Regions from separate parts of the Homo sapiens genome. Here region 1 is linked to region 2. Evidence: fine-mapped QTL for protein levels in blood plasma. A gene starts in region 2. The other region holds a variant in brackets. All regions are shown on one strand. Distances are from middle to middle. Region 1 holds the start of LOC102724684 (a long non-coding RNA gene). Region 2 holds the start of COL15A1 (collagen type XV alpha 1 chain).

Region 1 (8,330 bases), 71 kb after region 2:
TGGGGTTTCACCATGTTAGCCAGGCTGGTCTCAAACTCCCGACCTCAGGTGATCCACCCGCCTCGGTCTCCCATATGTTTTGTTTTACTTATTTATTTTGTTAACTTTTATTTTAGGGTCAGGGGTATATATGCAGGTTTGTTATATAGGTAAATTGAGTGTCACAGGGGGTTGCTGTACAGATTATTTTGCCACCAAGACAATGAGCATAGCACCCAACTCACCCTCCTCCCATCCACTACCTTCAAGTAGGCTCCTGTGCCTGTTGTTCCCCTCCTCGGGGCCACGTGTCCTTGATGTTTAGCTCCCACTTACAAGTGAGAGCATGTGGTATTTGCTCTACTGTTCCTGCTTTAGTTTTCTTAGGATAGTGGAGGGCCAATTCTTTTGTGCTGACCTTGCTTGGTTCCAACAGGCATAGAATTATAAATATTTTGCCAAGAGGGAGAACACAAAATGCTTTTCCTCAGCATCGTTGTTGAGAGTGGGCTCTCCTGGCCTCATCACTAAGCCCTCGAGGCCCTTCAAGATGACCTGATCCCATGTCCTCCATGCACAGATGAGGACAGAACACCGCAGCTGGGGAGGTTCAGGACCTCCCCACGGCCACGCAGCTGCCAACTGGCCCAGGCAGAACACAAGTCTGCATGACTCCAAAGTCCACAGCTGTTCACACATCACCTTAGATGCCACCTGGGCCAGCCTGCTCTGTTTTACAGATGAGGAAACTGAGCCTCAAAGAGAGGGAGCCACTTTCTCCAGGAACAGACCTCCATCTCTGGAGGCTCAGCTCTGCTCCTTCTGCTCCAAGCTGCCTCCTTGTAGGTGGCAGAAGAGAAAGTGTCCCCTAAATAAATGCCATGAGCATGCAGCTGTGAACAAAACAATGTCCCCGAGCTGGGTGTCCAACGTCCCAAGGCCATGTGAGGAAAGAGGTTGTTGCCTTTCCGAGAAGGGGGCAGCTGCTGTGGAGCTGGAGCATTGCTCGGCCTCCAGCCTCTCCCAGGAACATAAAACTCAGGAACGAAGGAACGTTGGGCAGGAGCCCATGGGAATGAGGCCCACATTCCCCTCTCCAGGGGCTGCCTTGGCCGCTGATTATGCTCCCAACAAAATCCTTGCTGAACATCTGTATCGTGCAGGGAACTGATGCCTGGCCTCCCCTGCCATAAGGGGCTCGGCACAAGACCCCAATTCTGGGGCTGTCACCTCTGACCCCACAGAGACCCTGACTCTCAGCGGCCATATTCTGACCCTGAAAATCTGGAGTGAGTTAGGGAGAATTTAGACAGATGTGGCTCCTTCCAGTTTCCTGTGGAAATTAAGTGAAACCAGGAGGCATCTCATTCAGGGGAAAAGATGAGAGATGTGAGGAAAACAGAGGAAATAAATACATGAGGTGTTTGTTTGCAAAGCAGTTGTTTCTTCCATGCTCAGCACTCCTCAGAAGGGAGCTGACTTCTGGCAGGGCACTTTGCTGCAAAGCAAGTCCCTGATCAGCTGTCTTCCACCCCTCACTCCCACCACAAAGAGCCCACAGCTCTTTGCGCTCAATGCTCCTGCACACTTCTAGTACTTTGCACAAGCTATTTCCTCTGCTTGGAATGCTGTTCCCTCTCTTCTCTTTCTGGAGAACCTCTATGCAGCCCACATGGATCAACTCAAGACGTAATCCTCTGACTCCCTTCCTCCCACCTTTCCAAGCAAAAGAGGTGGCTGCTTCTTTGAGTCCACCCATCACCCTGTAAACCCCTCCATGGTGATCTTGTCACATGGACTTGAGGGCATGTCTACATGCCCTCTGTCTCCCTTGCTAGTCTACAGCAGACAGTGTGTCTTAATCATCTCTGTATCCACAGTGCCTGGCAGAAAGCCTGGTACAGAAAATGAACTCAATAAGCGTTCAAAGTTTGGATAGAAGGAGAGGGGAGAAATGGCAGGAGGGAAGGAAAGAAGCAGAAGTAAAGAAAAAAAAAATTGGCTTTAGAGTATTTGCAAGTCCCTCTCTTCTTCCCTATTGATTTGAGCCTGTATCTGCCTCTTCTAAATAAAATGCCTCAAAAAAACTCATTGATTAGGCTGTGACAAGGCTCAGCTGAGCAACACATATAACACGGCGTATGCAGAATAGGAGTTCATCTCTCACTCACATGAAAGTCCTTCTGGCCAGATGTGGTGGCTCATGCCTGAAATCCTAGCACTTTGGGAGGTCAAGGTGGGCGGATCATGAGGTCAGGAGTTTGACAGCAGACTGACCAACATGGTGAAACCTCGTGTCTACCAAAAATACAAAAATTAGCCGGGCGTGGTGATGCGCGCCTGTAATCCCAGCTACTCTGGAGGCTGAGGCAGGAGAATTGCTTGAACTCGGGAGGCGGAGGTTCCAGTGAGCTGAGACTGCACCACTGCACTCCAGCCTGGGTGACACAAAGAGACTCCATCTCAAAAAAAAAAAGAAAAAAAGAAAGTCTTTCTGAGGAGGCTGAGGCAGCTCTTTGAAGTCATCAGGGGCCCAGGCTGCTTCTGTCTTATTGCTCTGCCATCCCAAGGGGCTGTACTCATCCAGGTATCCCAGATAGCGCCCCACACATCTATGCTCCATCCACGGAGCAGGTAACGAAAGAGGACACACTCCTCTCTTCAAAGGCACAACTGGAAATTGAGTACAAGAGTCCCTCTTATCTGTGGGGGATGCGTTCCAAGACCCCCAGTGAATGCCTGAAACTGCAGATAGTACCAAACCTATATACACTATGTTTTTCCTATACATACATACCTATGATAAAGTTTAATTTATAAATGAGGCACCGTGAAAGACTAGCAATGTAACTAATAAAATAGAACAATTATAATAATACACAGTAATAAAAAAATATGTGAACGTGACTTCCCTCTCTCTCTCTCGCTCTCTCTCTCTCTCTCTCTCTCTCTCTCTCCCCAAATCACTTACCGTTCTGGACTTTGGGTAACAGAAACTGTGGGAAGTGTGGATAAGCAGAGACTATTGCACGCTGCTTGCCCAGTCCTTCCATGTAGCGCAAGACAGGCTGGGAATTATGGTCTCATGCTGAGCATCTGCACACCAAGGTGAAAGTTTTATTTCCATGTAAAAGGGATGAAATGGATTTTGGAAACAACCAGAAATCTTTTCCAAAACAACAACACACAGAAAGAGAATACCCTTCCAAGCCCCAACATTGACCTTATACATTTCACCATCCCAACAAATCTGTGAGGAAACTGAAGCTCAGGGTGGAAATGCCTTTGGCTGAGGGCACTATGAGCAGTAAAGGAGCATGATTGAAAACCAAATATCTGGTATAAACTGGGATTTCCATCTAAAACCTCACAAATACTACAAAGAGGAAAGGGGAGATGTGACTGCACAGCTGTTTACAGGGAGACAATCTGGGAGTCTGAGTTGACCCCCAGCTCAGTGTATCTGCTGTGTTATGTTTGTCTCCAGAGCTACATTAATGGGGGCCAACATCCAGAACAAACGGGATGAGCGATCTGCTCTCCTTGGGCTGGCCAGACTGCACCTGGAATTCTGTGTTTTGGGGGCCAGCCCTTAATGAGAACAATGAGAAACAGGAATGGGCCTGGGGCCAAGACAGGCTGGGAAGGGTCTGGATGCCCGCCCTGCGAAGAAAGAGCCACAGCTGAACACCATGGAGAGGGGCGAACTCCAGGGGATGTAGATCCTTAGCTTCTCATCTGTGTCACAGAGAGGACATGGTGACCTCATTCCAGGTGGCTCTGAGGAGCAGAACAATGACCCATGGAAAGAAGCCACTGGGAGGCAGAGTCGGCTCCAATAAAAAGAGGTAACTGGGGTGGTGCACCGAAGCCCCGGGCAGGCACGGCAGAAAGTAAGAACTCATCCCCCAGGGTGTGCACCAAGGGCGGAGGTGCTGTAGAGCCTTCTAAGGCAGAATCTTGCACCTGGAGGCTCCTGCAGCTGAGAATGGTCAGGTGTGTCTATGTGTGTGTGCACACAGGTGTGCTCTCCTAGTGACAGGGGCCATGGCTCCCTTGAGGCTCTCCAAGGAGTTTGTGACTCAAACCAGGGTCAATGGACTGGCCCACTGGGTCCTTCCAGGGCCCCTGCCTGCTTTAAAATCCCATGACCAGGCCGGTCGCCATGGCTCATGCTTATAATCCTAGCACTTTGGGAGGCAGAGGTGGATGGATCACTTGAAGCCAGGAGTTCGAGACTAGCCTGGCTAACATGGTGAAACCCCATCTCTAGTAAAAAAAAAAA[T/AAAT]ACAAAAATTAGCCAGGTGTGGTGGCATGCACCTGTAATCCTAGCTACTCGAGAGGCTGAGCCAGGAGAATCACTTGCACCTGGGAGGCAGAGGTTGCAGTGAGCCAAGATAGCACCAGTGCACTCCAGCCTGGATGACAGAGTGAGACTCTGTCTCAAAAAAAAAAAAAAAAAAAAAATCCCATGACTGCCAGTGTAGACGCACAAGTGTCCCGATGATGAAGAATAGGTAAAGAGAGCTCAGAGTGGCAGAAGGAAACTGGGGGCTTACCGGGACTGAAAATGGCTCTGTGAGCTCCACTCCCCAGAGCAGAGTGTGCCCCAAAATCCAACCGCAGGAACCACCCACTTGGCAAGCTTGGAGCATATGCTCCTCCCCTTGCTGAGGCTGGAGTATCTCCAGAACCCCATCTGCAAAGGGTCCAGGGGTTCCACATTCATCACACACCAGCCTTGGTGCCTGGTATGGGTGTGGCCTTTCTCCAGGACACCCCACCAGCCAGCAGGTGTCTTTTTGTTTTTCACCACTTCTTTTTGTCTTCTACAATTAGAGACCCTCTAATGGCCAGGCACCGTGGCTCACACCTGTAATCCCAGCACTTTGGGAGGTCAAGGCGGGTGGATCACCTGAGGTCAGGAGTTCAAGACCAGCCTGACCAACATGGTGAAACCCCATCTCTACTGAAAATACAAAAATTAGCCAAGTGTGGTGGTGCATGCCTATAATCCCAACTACTTGGGAGGCTGAGGCAGGAGAATCGCTTGAACTCGGGAGACGGAGTTTTCACTGAGCCAAGATTGCGCCATTGCACTCCAGCCTGGGCAATAGAGTGAGACTCCATCTCAAAAAAGAAAACAAAAAGACCCTCTAGTTTATTTGATGGCAATGCAGAATGACTTGTAAACCACTGTTCCCAAGCAGCAAGGCAAGGAGGTAGACAAGGAGGGGTGAAAATGGACCACAAACACCTGAGTCCTGGCCCCATCCCTGAATGACCTGGAGCATCCTCTCTTTCCTCACTGGGTCTCAGGTTCCACACCTGTGAGTGTGATGAGGAGCAGACTCTGTGGGGAAGCCGTGCCATGATGTATGTGTGTGCCTAGCCCAGTGCCTGGCACACAGAGGGACCTCAACAGTGTTTGTGGCTCACTTTGTACCTCTCAGGGCTGTTTGGGGATTAAGTGAAAAAAATAAGCAGAGCACCTGGCTCCAAGCCTGGCACATAGTGAACGCTTGATGACTTCCATTTTGTGCCCCTCCTGTGCACACCCGTGCCATGGGCTGAATCACGTCCCTCCCTGAATTCATACATTGACGTCCTAACCCACAGTACCTCAGAATGTGGCTGTATTTGGATACATGGTCTTTAAAGAGGTCATTAAGTTTGAGTGAGTTCATTGGGGTACCCTAACCCAATCTGACGGGTGGTGTCCTCATAAGAAAAGGAGATTAAGACACAGAGAAGCACAGAGTGAATGCCATGTGAACACAGAGACAGAAGGCGGCCACCTACAAGCCACGGAGAGAGGCCTCAGAGGAAGCCATCCCAGGGCACACCTTGATCTGGGAATTCTTGCCTCCAGAATTGCAAGAAAATCAGTTTCTGTTGTTTAAGCCACCCAGCCTGGAGTACTTGTCATGGCAGCTGGAGCAAATGTGGACACCCTGAACTTCTCCAGCTCTGTGCCTTTATCCACCCCGCAATGCTGTCCTGCCCAGTCCTGAGGCCCAAGGCATGCCCTGGAGGGAGCCTTAATGAGCCTTCATCAGAACTTCTCAGACCTTAATGAGCCTGAGAATCACCCAGGAGCTTGTTAAAATGCAGATTCTGCTTCAGTAGGTCTGAGTGGGGCCTGAGAGTCTGCATTTCTAACACGCTCCAAGGGAATGCCAGGGCTGCTGGTCCATGACCCACACTATGAGTAGCATGGTGCCAGATGGTGGGGGGGGCGTTAAGCCAGATGGGTGAGTGATGATGGGAAGTCCAGTGCTCCCTGAGTCGTGGGTGCTGATCGCAGCTCTAGCTCTTTCCACCCCTCAAAGTACAGGAGCTGGAAGAGGAGAAAGGAGGTGGCAACATGGGGCAGCTTTGGGTGACCTTCTCAGGGGAAATAACCACTTGTGAGCCCAGAGAAGCTCCCCTGGAGGACCACCTGCTTCTGCTGTCAGCGGGAAGTCACCTCCAAGCTCCTCTGGTCCTTTAGTCCATCACTTTCTTGACATGGATGGGGAGACTGAGACCAAGATTGGCTACATAACTTTTGGGGGTTGTGCAAAATGAAAACTGGAGGCATCTATTTCAAAAACTATGAAGAATTTCAAGATGGTAACAGTAGAGCATTATACCAAGCATGGGGCCCGTCTAGGCATGGGGCCTTGTGCTCAGGTGGCACACCTGTGAGGTAAGTCTAAGGCAGAGATGGCTTCCCAGTGAGCCAGAGCTCACCCAGCCTAACCTCAGGCCTCCTGAGTCCCGTCACTCCTCTTTCTATCAGTGCACCCCCTCACCCTTGCCCTCCGAACTTGTCTGCCTCCAGGGATCTAGCTGCAGCCAGGCAGGGAGGCGCTGGGGCAAGGAGGGAGTCCAAGACTTGGCAGGCTCCTTCCACCCCAAGCTTAGGAGGCCTGACCTCCTGGCTGCCTTCCCAGACCCACAGATTCCTCTGGCTCTGTGGGCCCAGCTCATCTGAGTAATTCTCTGCCACTTCCAGCTGATGGCACAGGGGTGGGAGATGGCACCCAGAAGGAGGAAGGGGCCCCAGACACAAGATATGCTGACCTCACGATTTAACACCCACTCTGCCCAGGCCACTGGCAACTGATGACAGTTGCTATTGCCTGATTGGCATGCATCTTCTCTTTCCTGCTTCACTGAGCCACTTCTCCCCATGCCTAGTTCAGGTAGTGCTATGTCCGTCCCTGCTCCAAAGGTGGGCATGGAATTCAGGTCCCTCTAATGCCCCTCTCCACAGTGGTACATCAGAGATAGGCCCTTGATCCAAGAGAATCTAGCAAAACTCAATACCTGAACTTTCACTGAAAATATTGAGATTGCTAGCTGTAAGAATGACGGAAGCCTGGAGCTTCCTGGAGTCCCTTCAGGGAGTAAGGAAGGCTTGCCTCAGAATGAAGCCAGCAGAAGGAAGCAGAGAAAAAAAAAAAAAAGCCCTAGGATAGATATTGTTGGAATCCTGGATCCAGCTGTGCCTGAAGTCCCTGACTTCTTAGTTCTGTGTGCCAATAAATTCCATTTTTGCTTACAGCTGGAGTTGAGATTTTGTCAGCAGCCATCAAAAGAATGCAGCATGGAAGTGTGATGGCTCACGCCTATAATCCCAGCACTTTGGGAGGCCGAGGCAGGTGGATCACCTGAGGTCACAGTTCGAAACCAGTCTGACCAACATGGTGAAACCCTGTCTCTACTAAAATACAAAAAATTAGCCGGGCATGGTGGTGGGCACATGTAGTTTCAGCTACTAGGGACGTTGAAGCAGGAGAATCGCTTGAACCCAGGAGGTAGAGGTTGCAGTGAGTTGAGATCACCCCATTGCACTCCAGCCTGGGCAACAAGAGCGAAACTCCGTCTCAAAAAAAAAAGGCAGCTTGGAATGTGTGCTCAGAGGTATCCAAGCTTGTCCATTCACACTTGTAATCCATAATGACCATGGATTCCCCAGATCTGGGAGACCTCACAACACAGTGGGAGTGGTGAACATGAGAAGAGTTGAGATCGTGAGTCACTGTTGGGCGTCCTGGCCTCCCTTCGAAGAGCACTCCTGGGTCTAGAAAGCCCCTTTTTCTTTGATCCATACAACAGCTCTACAAGGCAGGCAGGTCAGGGACTATAACTGATAGGCCAAAAGGGAAACTGAGGCTCAGATAAGGGAAATGAGTTGCTCAAAGTCATACTGGTAGTCAGTGGCAGAGCTGGGTGGAATTAACACTCACGAGCACCTGATTCTGTCTAGATAGCTCGCCTCTGTGCCACCAGAGCAGTCTGTACTCGGCTCAAGATGTATCTACAGAGTAAAGAAAAGTCCTCCACAGAGTTCACTTTGTTTTTGT
Region 2 (8,320 bases):
TTAGAAGGATGATTTGGGGGTCCCCAGGTACTATGGGGGAAAGGCATTTTTAAAATGGTACTGGTAGCCAGGTGCAGTGGCTCACGCCTGTAATCCCAGCACTTTGGGAGGTCAAGAAGGGTGAATTGCTTGAAGCCAGGAGTTTTAGACCAGCCTGGGCAACACAGCAAAACTCTATGCCTACAAAAAATTTTTAAATTAGCTGGGTATGAGGGTATGTAATCCAGCTACTCAGGAGGCTGAGGAAGGAGGATCCCTTGAGCCCAGGACTTTGAGGCTTCAATGAGCTAAGATTGTACCACTGCACTACAGCCTGGGCAACAGAGAAGACCCTGTCCCAAAAAATAATAATAGAATAAAAATGGCACTAGCCTATGCAAAAGCACAGGTGTGGGACGTTGCATGTCCCATTCAGAAGCCTGCCAGTGATTTGATGTGAGCTGAAGTCCATAGGGACTTAGTGTTAGTGGAGGAAGGCAGGGTCCTCTGGGGCCAGGAGCATGACTCCATCTCAGGTACAGTGAGAACCCAGTGAGGGCAATTATACTAGGAAGCATCATGATTAAATAAGAAAAATCCATCTAAATACATAGTAAGAACTGTCCAACCAGTTCTGTTCTTTGATGGGTGAGTTCTTTGGGGGGAAATATTGCCAAAGGAAATAATCCAAAAGAAAAAGGCCATTTGTCTGAAGATGTCCCAGCAGCACTATTTATAATAATGACAAATTGCTAAAGTCCAGCTCTGGACAAAGTGGCCAGCTCTAGACAATTGTCCTTTGGGAGATGGAGACTGCAGGTCAATGAGGCAAAACTTCAGGTGTGACTCCTACCCACATCTCTCTCACTCAGAAAAGCAAATCAGACTGCCAGGGAGCAAGAGTGGGGTGGTTAGAGGGAAGTTCTGCGCTGCTCTGATTCATATGCTTCCCATTAAATCAGGATTTCTCCAGAGAAGATGGTGGCCAAGAAGCACTTGAAAAAATGCGCAACGTCATTTGTCATTAGAAAATTGCAAATAGGCCAGGCACAGTGGCTCACGCCTGTAATCCCAGCACTTTGGGAGGCCGAGGTGGGTGGATCATGAGGTCAGGAGTTCGAGACCAACATGACCAATATGGTGAAACTGTATCTCTACTAAAAATACAGAAATGAGCTGGGCATGCCTGTAGTCTCAGCTACTCGGGAGGCTAAGGCAGGAGAATTGCTTGAACCTGGGAGGTGGAGGTTGCAGTGAGCCAAGATGGGCCGGCCACCAACTCCAGCCTGGGTGACAGAGTGAGACTCTGTCAAAAGAAAGAAAGAAAGGAAGAGAGAGAGGGAGGGAGGGAGGAAGGAAGGAAGGAAGGAAGGAAGGAAGGAAGGAAGGAAGGGGAAGGGAAGGGAAGGGAAGGAAGGAAGGGAAGGGAAGGAAGGAAGGAAGGGAGGGAGGGAAGGAAGGAGGGAAGGGAGGGAGGGAAGGAAGGAGGGAAGGAAGGAGAAAGAAAAAAGAAAGAAAGAAAGAATTGCAAATAAAAACCACAATGAGATGCCATTTTATATCCACTAAAATGGCTATAATTTTAAAAACTGAAAACAAGCATTGGCGATGATGTGCATAATTAAAGCCCTCATACATTGCTGGTGGGGATGTAAACATGGTGCAGCCACTGTGGAAAACAGTTTGGGGGTTCGTCATACTTGAAACACAGAATTATCATATGACCAGAAATTCTGCTCCTAGGTGCAAAGAAGTAGAAACAGGCCGTCAAGCATCCGAATACTTGTATGCAAATGTTCAGAGCAGCACTATTCACAAAAAACAAAAGGTAGAAATAACCCAAATGTCCATCAACAAATGAATGGAAAAACAAAATTTGGTATATACATACACTGGAATATTACTCAGTCATAAAAAGGCATGAAGTACTGACACATGATACAACATGAGTGAACCATGAAAACTTTATGTTAAATGGAAGAAGTCAGACACAATAGGTCATACACTGTATGATTCCATTTTCATGAAATATCTAGAATAGGCAAGTCCATAGAGGCAGAAAGTAGTTTAGTGACTGCCTGAAGCTGAGAAAATGAGGGAATGGGGAGCAATTGATTAATGGGCATAGATATTTCTTTTGGGGTGATGAAAATGTTTTGGAACTTGATAGAGATGTTGATTGCACAATATTGTGAAGGAACTAAATGACACTGAATTGTGCACTTCAAAATGGTTACTGTTATATAATGTAAATTTCACCTCAATAAAAAGTAAGTCTGGATATCTAAATGGTCAATAAACATATGAAAAGGTAATTAATAATTAGGAAAATGGAAATTAAGGCTACAGTAAGATCAAATATGCACCCATTAGAAATGCTGAAGTTAAGCTCAGTGACAAGATCAAGTGCTGGTGAGGATGTGAAGAAATGGAGGCCCTCATTTCTTGGTAGCTGTGTGGATCTGTACAACCATTTAGAAGACATGCTGGCATTGTCTACTCAGTTGGGGGATATGCACACTCTGATTCAGCACTCCACTCGTAGGTATAGAACCAACAGAAATTCATGCACATGTGCACTGAGAGAAATGTACAAGAATGTTCAGAGCGACACTATTACATTAGCCCAAAATGGAAACAACCCAAATGTTGGAGAAGAATGGATAAGTAACATATGCTATGCTAATGCAATGGACTATTATACAGCAATGGCAATGAACTACAGCCACATACAGCAGCATGAATAAATCTCAAAAACTTATTATTCATTGAAAGAATCAGACATGAAAGAATAGATTCTGCATTTAAAAAGTTCAAAATCGAGTAAAACAGAACTTCAGAATTTTGGGATACACACTTAGATAGTAAAGCTATTTTTAAAAAGCAAGAAAGGGATGACTGTTAATGTCAAGGTAATGGTTACCTCAGAGAGAAAGAAGGGAAAATAAAACCACAGCAAAGGGGTTTAGGAGACCTTCTGGGGATTATCCTATATCTTCATCTGGATTACATGTTTGCTCTGTGATACAAGATTGTACTGTACCTTTAGCATGCACTTTTCTGAATGGATGTTGTATTTCACAATAAAACAGTTTAAACATAAGCAAATAATTTGCAATCATCAACACTTTATTAGCAAGAGCAAATTACTTGTGACACCACCATCCCTACCTGGACAATAGCCCCCTTATCTTCTAAAATATTGGGTATTCCAATGACCCTGAAACTTTACCAGGAAAAGGAAGGATTGGTGTTGTCCTCCAGCTCAACCCTGACCATTGGAGGTACAAGAGGCCATGTGGGTGACACCCACTGACAAGTGTCTCTTTTTTTTTTTTTTTTTTTTTGAGACAGAGTCTCCCTCTGTTGCCAGGCTGGAGTGCAGTGGCGCGATCTTGGCTCACTGCAACCTCCGCCTCCCAGGTTCAAGCTATTCTCCTGCCTCAGCCTCCCAAGTAGCTGGGACTACAGGCGCCCGCCACCATGCCTGGCTAATTTTTTGTATTTTTAGTAGAGACAGGGTTTCACCGTGTTAGCTAGGATGGTCTCAATCTCCTGACCTAATGATCTGCCCGCCCCAGCCTCCCAAAGTGCTGGGATTACAGGTGTGAGCCACCGCGCCCGGCCGACAAGTGTGTCTTTAAACAGGATGGTGTAGAAGGATGGGATTGGCTGCACACAGGACATTCTGCATGGTAGATGAGAAGACTTCAGGAAAAATGGCATTACAGTTGTCTGTGGCCCTTTCTTTCTTCCTGTGAACTATGACCCCTTTGGGGCAGCTCTGTGCCCAAATCCTTTCTGTACCCAGCCAGCATGAGGGCCAGCACAGAATGGGTTTGTTGAACTAAACTATGTGAAATAATCAAACCTCAAACTAGAAAAATATTATTTTGTTTTGTTTCCCAACATTTTAAATTAGGACTACAGAGATGAGTGACTCTTGCCTCTCCACTTCGTAGATGGGAAAACAGGCTCAGAGTGGGAAAAGCAACTCATCTAAGTTCATGGAGGAAGTCAGTGAGTGGAACCCAGGTTTTCCAATACCTGAACTTGTGCTGTTTTAGGGCGTGCAGGATATCAGGAAGTTTACAAAGACCCACTTTTTAACAGATCAACTACCTGCAAAAAACCCATATGCATGTGTTCTACCCCTACCTGAGGAGCCCTGTCCTGGGCCCACAATGGCATTCAGGGATAGTAGGGAGAGTCGATCCAGAGACCTGGAGGTGCAGGCAGAACTCTGGACCCATTTTCTGAGAGAATCAATGCCCTAAGAGGCCAGCAGCTTTTAAGTTGTGAGCTGTGTGCCAGCTCTGTACCAGGCTGGCTAGGAACCCCACCTTGAAGCCCCACCAGATCTGGGGCCTAGATGCTCTGGGAAAATACATTCTTTTATTTAAGAAGCAGCTTTATTGAGGCATAGCTTACATTCCATAAAATTCACCCATTTTAAATGTATAGTTAGATTATTTTAGTAAATTTATAGAGTTGCACAACTACCACCACAATCCAGTTTTAGAACACTCCCCAAAAAGTTTCCTCATGCCCCTTTGCAGTCAATCTCTGCTTCTGTTTTCTGTCTCTGTGGTTCTGCCTTTACAGAAATCTCATATATAGGGACTCTTACAATGTATTGCTTTTTAATGTCTGGCTTCTTTTACTTAGCTTAATGGTATTAAGGTTTATCCATGTTGTTGTAGCATTGATCAATACTTCATTCCTTTTTATTGCTGAGTAGTATTCCATTAAATGGATACACCTCATTTGTTTATCTATTCACCAGCTAATGGTGAATTTAACTTTATTTCCAGTTTTGGTCATTATAAATAATGCTGCTATGAACATACATATGAGTTTTTGGGTGGCCATATGCTTTCCTTTCCCTTAAGTAGATACTTAGGAGTGGAAGTTCTAGATTGTAGGGTAAGTATATATTTAACATTTTAAGAAACTGCCAAATCGTTGGGAACATGTATTTCCGCTCATAACAGCCCACTTACAAACATGCTTTCAGAAGCCACCCCACTTAAGCATACAGCATAGTGGTTACAAGTACAGATTCTGGAGTCAGACCCTCTGGGCTCAAATTGTGCTTATATTACTGAAGGCTACATGCCCTTGGGCAAAAGACTGTGCCTCAGTTTCCTCATCTGTAAAAGGGGATAAGACATGGGGTTGTTGTGATGATTGACTGAGCTCATTCATGGCAGGGCACTTAAAACACTGCTGGTTCATAGTGCTATGAAGTCTTGGCAATTGTTTTTTATAGCCAGTTGGGCAGTGGTCCTATGGAAGGAACAGCACCAGCCCAGAAGTTCACAGACGTGAGAGGGCTATTATGGATCTACCCAGTTACAGTCATGCGGCCTTGAGGAAGTCACATCCCCTCTGTAAGACAGAGCCCAATTTACTTCTCAGCACTGCTGGGTGGTGATTCCAGGGACGTGGTGAAGGTGACATTGTGCTTTGAAGACTGCACAATGCCATGCAATGGACTCATGTTACAATTGTGACATTCAGATTGTGGGGCTCATTGGAGACCATGGAACCCCTAAAGCCTTCTCCATCCGTGAAGCTCTTCTAACTACACACTAGGATGGTTAAGAGCAAGGACTCTGGAGTCAGACTGTCTGGTTCAAATCCCACCCCAGCCACTTAGAAGTCTTGTGACTTTGGACCTCTGTTTCTTCATCTGAAAAACAGAGATAGTAACTGTTCTCAGTCCTCACCTCCTGGAGTGGTTGTAAGGATTGGATGAATGAAATATGAACATGTTCACACCTCCACCTGGATATACAAAGTGTTTTATAAGTATTAGGGATATTAAATTGCATTACAAATGCAGTTTGCAGGAGGATAGTTTACATTTTTAGGAATCGTTTCACATCCCCAAAGGGGCACTGAAAACCCATCAGTTGCAAATGGCCCTCCTTAGACCGTTCTCAGCTCCTGAAGGTTTGCTGGCCCTCCCTTTTTACATTATAAATGGGAATAGGGCTTCCTTTGTGTTAGAAACAACAGCCCTGACACTGAGGGATCCCAGAGACACACACAGGAGGAGAAAGAAACACCAAAGTTCCTATCCCCAGATCCATCTTCCTTTTGGGAAACTGGAAGTTGCAGCAAAGTTCACAAAAGACCATGGAACCCAAAGTTGGCCTCTGCCACTGAGTTGGCAGGGCCCTATATCATATGCAAAATTGCAACTTTCTGACATGAGCCATGGGGCTGAGAAGCTAAAACTATACTCCAGCTGCCCTTTGATCTGCAATAAATGCCAGGCTGGACACTCTGGCAGGAAAAGCTATCATCGGATTTGGGTCTTGTTGCCCAGGAGACAATGGGCTGTCTTGGGCTTCTTCAGGCAAACAAAGAGTTAACCAAGGCCACCTTCTCAATCCCGTTTCCTTTGGGCCGACTAGAGGTTGTTTCCTAGACTTTCTGTTCCCTTATTCAATTGAAGATGTGTACTAATCCCCCAAATTCAAAGGGGAGGGGGTCAGAAGCTATAGAAAGCATGGCTCTTCTGCAAAACTGCATGGAGAAAGAGCTGAGCAAGGGCAAGAGCCTACAGACCTGGATTCAAGTCCTGGCTTTTGGACTGGCCACTTTCTAAGCTTCTCTCAACCTCAATGTTATAAAAATACCTGCATTGCGATGGGATTAATAGAAGCCCAAACCTCAGCACCGTGCAATATACCCTTGTAAAAAACCACACATGACCACTCCCTGAATCTAAAATAAAAATAAAAATACTTGCATTGCTTTCCAACACATAGTTACTGCAAGAATCAAGCAGTAATTTCTATCACTTATTTTGTGCCTAGTATATACTGGAATCATGGGAAGCACATTATTTCTAATTTCTCTAATATTCACAACATTTCTAGGAAGGTAAAATGGTCTAATTAATCGCCTTTTTCAGATGGGGAAACTGAGGCACAGAGCGATGAAATCCATTGCCCAAGATCACTCAGCCAGCCACAGTTCAAACCCAGGCAGTCTGACCTTAACCGAGGCCCATTTTAACTTAGGTCTACTTTAACTTATATCTTACTATTCAGCCAACCGCCTGAGTTCTGCTGGAGAAACTGAGGCCCGGGGAACGGAAGGGATCAGATCTCTGGCTTCCAGGCCACAGCTCTTTCCACCACCGGTGGAGCCACTGCCCATGATAGACGTGACCGCTTAGGTAACTCAGAGCTGGGTTAAGCAACCGAGCAATTCAGTTCCGTTATTTCTTGAGCAGCAAAAGCCCCAGATGTCCCTCCCGGTGTTCATGCTTCGCACCTGTGTGCGGAGAGGCACCAGACCTGCCCTTACCAGAAGCCAGCCAGCACGCACAACCTAAGCTGCTGGCGCTGGGTGCGCTGAGGCTGTTGGCGCTGGCGCTGGCGCTGTTTCTGAAGTCCCTCTCTGCCTAAGATTGGAGGCTCCGCACCCAGCTCAGACATCTCGGGTGCCCAGACAACGCTCCAACCGCCCCAGCTGCCCAGGGATCCCATTCACAGCTATAACCCCTGCACTGCCAGGAGGTAGCCGCCCGCGGGACCGCCAGTGCGCACTGAGTGGCAAGACTCCCTTTTATGTCCAGGAATGAGGCACGCATCGCAGCCGCGTCCGCCGCCAAAACCGACTTCCCCCACGGGCGCGGAGGCAGCCGGTGCCACCCTCCGACCGGGTTGCTTACCTGTCGCACCGCGGGTCTGGGTGACAGCAGGGAGGGGCGTGGAGACCGAGAGCAGCATCAGCAGACACCAGCACTGCCCGTTGTTCCTCCTGCAAGATGTGCCCGAGGGAGAAAAGGTGAGGCGGGCAAGAGTATTGGAGGGGCCCGGGACGCGAGGAAGCAGAGAAGCGGGTCTTACCTTGGTGCCATCTCGCGGGTCTGCGGAGCCCCGGAAGGCGCGCGGCTAGTCGAGCAGAGCGTTGGAGCTTAGCGGAGGACGAAGGGTCGCTGAGCGCTGGCCGCCGCGCTCGCCCTTCCTGCAGGGAACAAAGGCGGCGCTCGGCAGCGGCGGCGGCGGGCAGAATCCCGGCTCCCGGCCCGCGCCCCGAGTCACCCGCGCTCTGAAACCCGACTCCGCCGCGCCCTGCGCTCCCCCGCGCGCTGCGCACTCACGCCCGGGGGATACCGGCCGCCCCGGCCGCCTCCCCACGCCCCTTTCCCCCTCGACGGACGTGCGCTCGCCTCTGCTGCCTCCACCCGCGGCTGCCTTATGTAACCTGCGAGGAAAGCCCCGCGCCCGCGTTCGTTGGGGCAAGCGGGATGGGCTCCCTCCCGCCCTTAAGTCTGTCCTGTCGGGGCTGACCCGCAAGAAAGCACTCTTTCACAGCC

Evidence for each region. A credible set is the group of variants that fine-mapping cannot tell apart. PIP is the chance, under the fine-mapping model, that this variant and not a neighbour inherited with it causes the effect. Protein levels are from the aptamer-based SomaScan assay of Sun 2018.
Region 1: its variant is the best candidate, but not a certain one, in a credible set for the plasma level of the COL15A1 protein (Sun 2018, PIP 0.55).

The regions. Positions count from the first base shown.
Region 1 is chr9:98,872,799-98,881,128 of GRCh38, reverse strand. LOC102724684 (a long non-coding RNA gene) reads left to right here and starts at 3,796. Exons shown (of 3, transcript XR_930168.2): 1 at 3,796-3,827. The variant T/AAAT (reference allele first, on the strand shown) is at 4,265.
Region 2 is chr9:98,943,603-98,951,922 of GRCh38, reverse strand. COL15A1 (collagen type XV alpha 1 chain) reads right to left here and starts at 8,016. Exons shown (of 42, transcript NM_001855.5): 1 at 7,851-8,016; 2 at 7,673-7,761. The coding sequence starts at 7,861. It overlaps COL15A1-AS1 (COL15A1 antisense RNA 1), which reads left to right and starts at 7,271. Exons shown (of 1, transcript NR_198999.1): 1 at 7,271-8,320.